Homo sapiens: one gene and its partner. The protein of the gene in region 2 interacts with the protein of the main gene of each other region in a pairwise test. Each region holds a gene or a part of one and is shown on either strand. Other genes may lie near its edges.

Region 1 (3,611 bases), on a different chromosome or scaffold from region 2:
GAAAGAAGCCTTCTCTGATCCCCACCAGCATCAGATGAGGCTGGGCGTGAAGTCATTTGTCCATCACACTGTCCAGGCCTGTATTATTCTGTTCTCATGCTGCCAAAAGAGACACATCCAAGACTGGGTAATTTATAAAGGAAAGAGGTTTAATGGACTGATAGTTCCACATGGCTGGGAAGCCTCACAATCATGGCAAAAGGCAAAGGAGAAGCAAAGGCACAGCCTGCATGGTGGCAGGCAAGAGAGCGTGTGGAGGACAACTCCCATTTATAAAACCATTAGATCCTGTGAGACTTATTCACTCCATGAGAGTGTATGGGGGACACCGCCCCCCATGATTCAATTATCTCCACCTGGTCCCACCCTTGACATGTGGGGATTATTACAATTCAAGGTGAGATTTGGGAGGGGACTCAGCCAAGGGGATATCAAGGCCTATCCACCAGTAGAGCAGAAACAAAGAGGGTCTGAAAGGTAGAGAGAGATGAAGCAGGTTCTGGTGGGATCCTTAAAGACCCCGGGTCAGCCTCATCTAAAATCAGCACAACTCTGGACTCCTAAGTCTCTTAAGATAATTCGAAGCTTCATGTAACAGAGTCCTGATGGTGTGGAGTCAGGATAAAGCATGAGGATATTCCACATCCATAATGATAAAACTATGATTATTCATGAGTGCTCCTGGCCTTCCAGGCCTCCGCTTCCATAAGACACATTGACAAGACACCCCACAGAGCTCGCACCTTCCTTGTTGGTTTCTTGTAGTTTCTCTTTTTTTTTTCCTCTGGCAGTTTCATGACTGTCAACTCTTATTAAGCTTATTTTCATACGAATCTCCAAGTCTTTTTACACGTGTTCCTCTCAAACTCCTCTCTCGTACCTCCCAAGTCAGCGTGTGTGATCTACGTTCAGCATGTTGCAATATCCCCTTTGTCTCACATGTTAGATTGTCCTCATCTCAGGTGAGCTTTTGGTCACAACTCTGCCACGCAAAGGCCTTACCACTCCACCCCTTCTGTGTAGCTGCTCTTCTGAGGTTTGCGCGAAGGAGCTCATCTGTTTGGACAGCCACCTCTGATACAAATGTTCACCTGGGCAGGGCTGGGGACAGAGTCCTGGGGTCTCCTTGGAACGTGCTCAAGGTTCATACCACACCATCTGCTACCATCTGAGCTGCTGGGAATCCACCAAAGCATAGCACCCCCCAGGTACACGTCACCGTTGTGTGGACAACAGTGCTGGGGTGAGCGCTAATCCCAGTGCCCAGCATCAGTAAGCACCGAATACAGACCTCTTCATTTGTTTGTAACGTTACTGAAATCTCTATCTTTACTCCACATTCTATCCAGTAGCAAAACAAAGCTCTGTAGATACTGCCACACTCCCACCCCACCCAATGATTTCAGGGATCACTTCTAAGTTTTGAGAGGTTCGGAGTGACCACAACAACCAGGAGGGCTTTGTGATTGGTACAAATGATATCTTGTCTCCTGTGGTCAGTCCACACAGACTATGGTTTGTGCCTCCCTGGTCTTGACCACAAGGCCTCCTCGGGCCAATTGGGCTTCCTCAGCCATGCCTGCACAGCCCTGGCTGCCAGGAAAAGATTCTGCTATTTGAGCCATGCTCGGGCATGCTGCCTGGTCACCTCATACGAACATTCCTTCTGCTTCATCTCCAGGCTATTTAGGACAGAGTGTCTTCATTTGTGGCTCTCCCAATATATTCACGAAGTCAATCTAGAATATTTTTAATTTGTCATTGGAGTGACGTGGCACAGAGCAGCTGAAAAGCCCACCAGCATCTAAGCTGCCCTCCAAATTCTCCTGCCCTTTCCCCTAGTAAAAAAAAAAAATTACTTGGTGAAGGAAGAAGAGAAAGGCTGAGAAACCATATGCCTGGGAAGATAGGTTCTTCCAAATCTTTTCTCTATTGCTGGATACCAGCTTTTGAAATCAAAAGTCAGGAATTTGATTTCTCTGTCTCTCTTTTTTTTTTTTTTTTTTTTGTTTGGAGACAGGGTCTCACTCTGTCACTCAGGTTAGAGTGTATTACATGATCACAGCTCACTGCAACCTCCACCATCCAGGTTCCAGCAATCCTCCCACCTTAGCCTCCAGAGTAGCTGGGACAACAGGCACACACCACTGCACCTGGCTCATTTTTTTTGTTTTGTTTTGTTTTGTTTTTGTAGAGATGGAGTCTTGCTTTGTTGCCCAGGCTGGTCTTGAACTCCTGGACTCCTCAAGTGATCCTCCCACCTGGGCCCCCCAAAGAGCTGGGATTACAGACATGAGCCATCATGCTTGGCCTTGACTTTCCTGTCTCGTGCCTTCTGCTGTTCCAAGAGGCAGTGGCTGCCAGGTGTTCATCTGCACGAGAAAGGAGAGGCCAGGGCAGCAGGGAATGAGAGCAGGCAGGGCAATGTCGCCATCTGTTTTGATATCAAAATACTTTATTGCCACAATATCCTGCCAAACACTCTTTGAGTCTCGGCAGGCTATTTTATCACTGAAGCGTCTTCCCATCTACCAGTATAGCTTTCCTGACCAAAATGCAAACAAACAAATAACAACAATGAAATCTGACAGACATCTTCTTAGTGAATCTGCAGAGGGAGATTCCCATAAACATAAACATTTAATGTCACTCTCGTGAAAAGAATAACTTAATGTCACTAAAAGTTAAACACTTTTTTGGAACCTCTTGTCTTTCCAAATGTACATCTGAATCTCCCTTTATTTATATACTTTACTTACTTCCTAAGAGTGGAACCTCTTGTCTTTCCAAATGTACATCTGAATTTCCCTTTATTTATATACTTTACTTACTTTATATACTTTACTTACTTCTTAAGGGAGGAGAAGTGGCTATTTGAATTCTCTTTCAAAGGCATGTTTTTTACCTTTATAACTGTTGACTGATCTGTTCTAAAACTATGTACTTCAGTCGCTTTTCAGATGCATGCCACAGGTTTGTTTACTTTCAAGGTCAAGGGCCTTCCTTCTCCATCAATTCTTAATTTATGGAGGGGGTGCACCTTGGGTGACTCCTGAAACCAATGTTTAAGGACAGAGGTGACGGAAGCACCTAGCCTCTGACTGTGGTATGTACCCCTTAATTCTTCCTACAGCAGATTTTTCTTTTAAATAAATGACAAAGTCATCTAAAAATATTCCGAGTCTTTGGTCCCATGTCACAACAAATCCATGCTGGTTTCCTCTTCGTTTTGTGAGAGGCCGCACCATATCATCTCCACAATTCATTCAAGTGTGCTGTCTGGCGTCAAACATCAAAATCAACAACGCATATGTTCACAGCATCAAGCATCCTTCTTCTGCAAACAGGAAGAGTCTGTGTCTTCATTCCGCATGCTTCTTCCTCATTCTTTATAATTTCCCAGAGACCACTGATGTGTCACCTACACTTTTGGTCCTGGAAGACCAGAGGCCATGTCTTAGTCTTCCCTGCCCAGGACCCTACACATGTTAGGGACATAGATGAATAAACAGGTCCTGAAGACAGTCCACTGGGCATGTCTGCAAGTTCTTTAAGAAGCTTGACCTAGGGAGGTGGGGGAGGAGGAAAATAAAAATAAAAAAAACAAAAAA
Region 2 (3,611 bases):
TAGTGTCCCAAAGTGCTGGGATTACAGGTGTGAGTCACCATGCCCCCCGGCCAAAGTGTACTTTTAAAAAAGAAAAGAGTCAGGCTCACTGGCCTGACTCTATAGTCCCAGCTACTCAGGAGGCTGAGGCAGGAGGATCACTTGAGCCAGGAGTTCCGGGCTGTAGTACGCTATAATCATGCCTGTGAATGGACTGCACTCCAGCCTGGGCAACACAGAAAGACCCCGTCTCAAAAAACAAACCAACTAACCAACCCTAAGCAAGTATTAAGTGTTGGTTCTCGGAAAATCTGAATCATCCAAGTTAGAAAGTAGAAAGCAAATGGAAAAGTAGTAATTGACCTAAAAGACTCAATAATGATCAATTTTAAACCGACAATGGGGAAAGCTGAGAAAGCTGATTTGGACCACAGAACCCCCATTGACTTAGGAATTGTCTGGGCCAAGTACATCTAGAAATAAAGGTAAAGATGGAGCTAAAAACAGAAGGAAGGGATGAAAGTCTATTTAACAAGTAGATTAACACTCTCTTCTATTCCCTCTTCTGTTCAACACAGCTGAAAATTAGAAGATAATGCTGCTGAGAAAGAAAAACGGGGTTTCTGTACTAGGGATTACAAGGTACAGCTGAGGGATAGAGTACAAACAATATTAAAAGCAAGGAGACTAAATGCATTTACTGTATGTTATGACTTCAAACCCTCTCTCCATTCACCTCCAAGAACACTGACAACCAAGATTCTCTCCAGCAGTGCACTGAGTAATTCTTCTTCAGGGAATCTGACCAGCAAAAAGACTTAAAGACCTAACATCAGAGACTCCCAAAAAGGAACTCAGCAAGATCATTCTGCAGTAAAGACCCACAAACCCACACAAGAGCATAAAAAACAAAAACAAAAACACAACTCTCAGTGCTCACCTCTTAAATAGAAGCAAATAGCCAAGAAACACTAGTTTTTTGAGGACCACATCAAACAGGAAATAGAGAAACTAAAACAAGCAGAGATGAAAAACAATTTACAAAAACTAAATATGCAGGAAGAAAAAAGTCATGTATCTTATTAACATCTTCAAAATGACAAGAAAAGGTAAAAATTGGGAATTAAAAAGATGCTACAGAAGGCTGGGTGTGGTGACTCCCACCTGTAATCCCAGCACTTTGGGAGGCCAAGGGGGCAGATCACTGAAGGTCAAGAGTTCGAGACCAGTCTGACAAACAGTGAAATCACGTCTCTACTAAAAATACAAAAATTAGCCAGGTATGGTGGCAGATGCCTGTAATCTCAGCTACTCAGGAGACTGAGGTATGAGAATCGTTTGAACCCGGGAGGTAGAGGTTGGAGTAAGCCAAGATTGCACCATTGCACTCCAGCCGGGGTGACAGGGCAAGATTCTGTCTCAAAAAAACAAAAACACAGATGCTACAGAAAGGAACATTCAGAAGATGAACAAAAACACTCTTTGAAATTAAAATGATAAGAACTGGCACGGTGGCTCATGCCTGTAATCCTAGCACTCTGGGAGACCGAGGCCAGGCAGATCGCATGAGCTCAGGAATTCGAGATGAGCCTGGGCAACATGGCAAAACGCCATCTCTACCAAAAATACAAAAAATAGCCGGCCTTGGTGGCGCATGCTTGTGGTTCCAGCTACTCAAGAGGCCGAGGTGGGAGGATCACTTGAGCCTGGAAGGCACAGGTTGCGGTGAGCTGAGATTGCACCACTGCACTCAAGCCTGGGTGACAGAGTAAGACTCCAGCTCAAAAAAAAGAAAAAAAAAATTAAAATGATAGCAGAAAAAAATAATAAAAAAATGGAAGAAAGTTGAGAAAAATCTTATGAGAATTAAAACAGAAGCTTAAGGAAATGAAAGAGACCAGATGAAATAAAATCAGGAAGTCTAATAAAAAGTCCAAGCCAGGTGAGGTGGTGCATGCCTGTAATTCCAGAGTCAGGAGCTTGAGGCGGGAATCACTTGAGGCCAGGAGTTGGAAAGCAGCCTGGCAACACAGCAAGACCTCGTTTGCTAAAAAAATTTTTTTTAATCAGCCGAGCGCAATGGCGAATGCCTCTAATCCCAACAGCTCCAGAGGCTGAGGTGGGAGGATCACTTGAGCCCAGGAGCTCGTGGCTGCAGTGAGCTATAATGGCACCCCTGTACTGTAGCCTGGGTGAGACAGCAAGGAGTTCAAGACTAACCTGGCCAACATGGCCACTCACTGCAACCTCTGCCTCCCGGGCTCAAGTGACTCTCCTGCCTCAGCCTCCTGAGATGGGATTACAGATGCACGCCATCATGCCCAGCTAATTTTTTGTATTTTAGTAGAGACAGGGTTTCACCATGTTGGCCAGGCTAGTCTCCAACTCCAGACCTCGCCGGGCACAGTGGCTCATGCCTGTAATCCCAGCACTTTGGGAGGCCGAGGCAGGCAGATCACGAGGTCAGGAGATCGAGACCATCCTGGCTAACACGGTGAAACCCCGTCTCTACTAAAAGTACAAAAAATTAGCCGGGCATGGTGGCGGGCGCCTGTAGTCCCAGCTACTCCGGAGGCTGAGGCAGGAGAATGGCATGAACCCGGGAGGCAGAGCTTGCAGTGAGCCGAGATTGCGCCACTGCACTCCAGCCTCGGTGACTGAGCGAGATTCCGTCTGAAAAAAAAACAAAAAAACAAAAAAACTCCAGACCTCAAGTGATCTGCCCACCTAGGCCTCCCAAAGTGCTGGGATTACAGGCGTGAGCCACCACGCCCAGCCTTAGCTCTACTTTTAAAAGCAGTGGCACTCATCATGCTATATTGTATTAAGTATTGTGTATTTCTTCCCTGATAAAACGTAAATTCCTTAAAAGTAAGCACTACCAAACCACCTGACACTGTAGCAATTTTCAATAAAGATTTGTTAAATTAAAACACTTTCTGAGCACTTCTCATGTGCCCAGCACTCTTCTAAATGTTTTGCATTATTTGACTAGTTTAAATGTCACAATAACTCTATGATAGGTCTATTATCTTTATGTTATAGATAAGGAAAAATGGGGCATAAAGACATGTTGAGTAATCTGCCAAAGGTCAGTAGCCACTGCTAAAACATGAAACCTAGACTCTTACTCTCCATCTCTACCAGTCCTCTAGTGCTCTAAATCATTAACTGTATGTACCACGCAGTTTTAAGGCTTCAGAACAAGATATGAAAAACTGGCAACATTATAACAGGAGATACAATTGACTTGATATTACCTAACCCAGCAGTTTACAAAGAGTGGTCTACTGACCCCTTAGGATCTCCCAAGACCTTTGGGGAGGTCCACAAACTCCTGGATGTCAAAACCATTTTCATAAGATTAAGATGTTATTTGAATTTTTCACTCTTACTCTCTTGAAATGTATTGTGGAGTTTCCCCGTGCCTATATGATGTGTAATATTACAGGATTGAATGCATAAGCAGCTATGCAAATCCAATTGTCCTCTATTAAGTCAGACATTAAAGAGATTTGCAAATATGTAAAACAATGTCACTCTCACTAAATATCTGTTTGGAAAATAGTTCTTTTTCATTTCAGAAATGATGTTAACATGAAGGCTGGGCACAGTGGCTCATGCCTGTAATC

Evidence for each region.
Region 1: the proteins of RAB6A (region 2) and TMEM132D interact in a two-hybrid assay, tested with the Homo sapiens proteins (one large-scale study listed by BioGRID).

Annotation. Positions count from the first base shown.
Region 1 is NC_000012.12:129,893,976-129,897,586, forward strand, and holds part of TMEM132D (transmembrane protein 132D precursor), read right to left. Parts: intron 1-3,611. UniProt on the Homo sapiens protein: Regulate neuronals morphology via inhibition of the WAVE regulatory complex (WCR), a complex that controls F-actin cytoskeletal dynamics.
Region 2 is NC_000011.10:73,751,056-73,754,666, forward strand, and holds part of RAB6A (ras-related protein Rab-6A), read right to left. Parts: intron 1-3,611. UniProt on the Homo sapiens protein: The small GTPases Rab are key regulators of intracellular membrane trafficking, from the formation of transport vesicles to their fusion with membranes.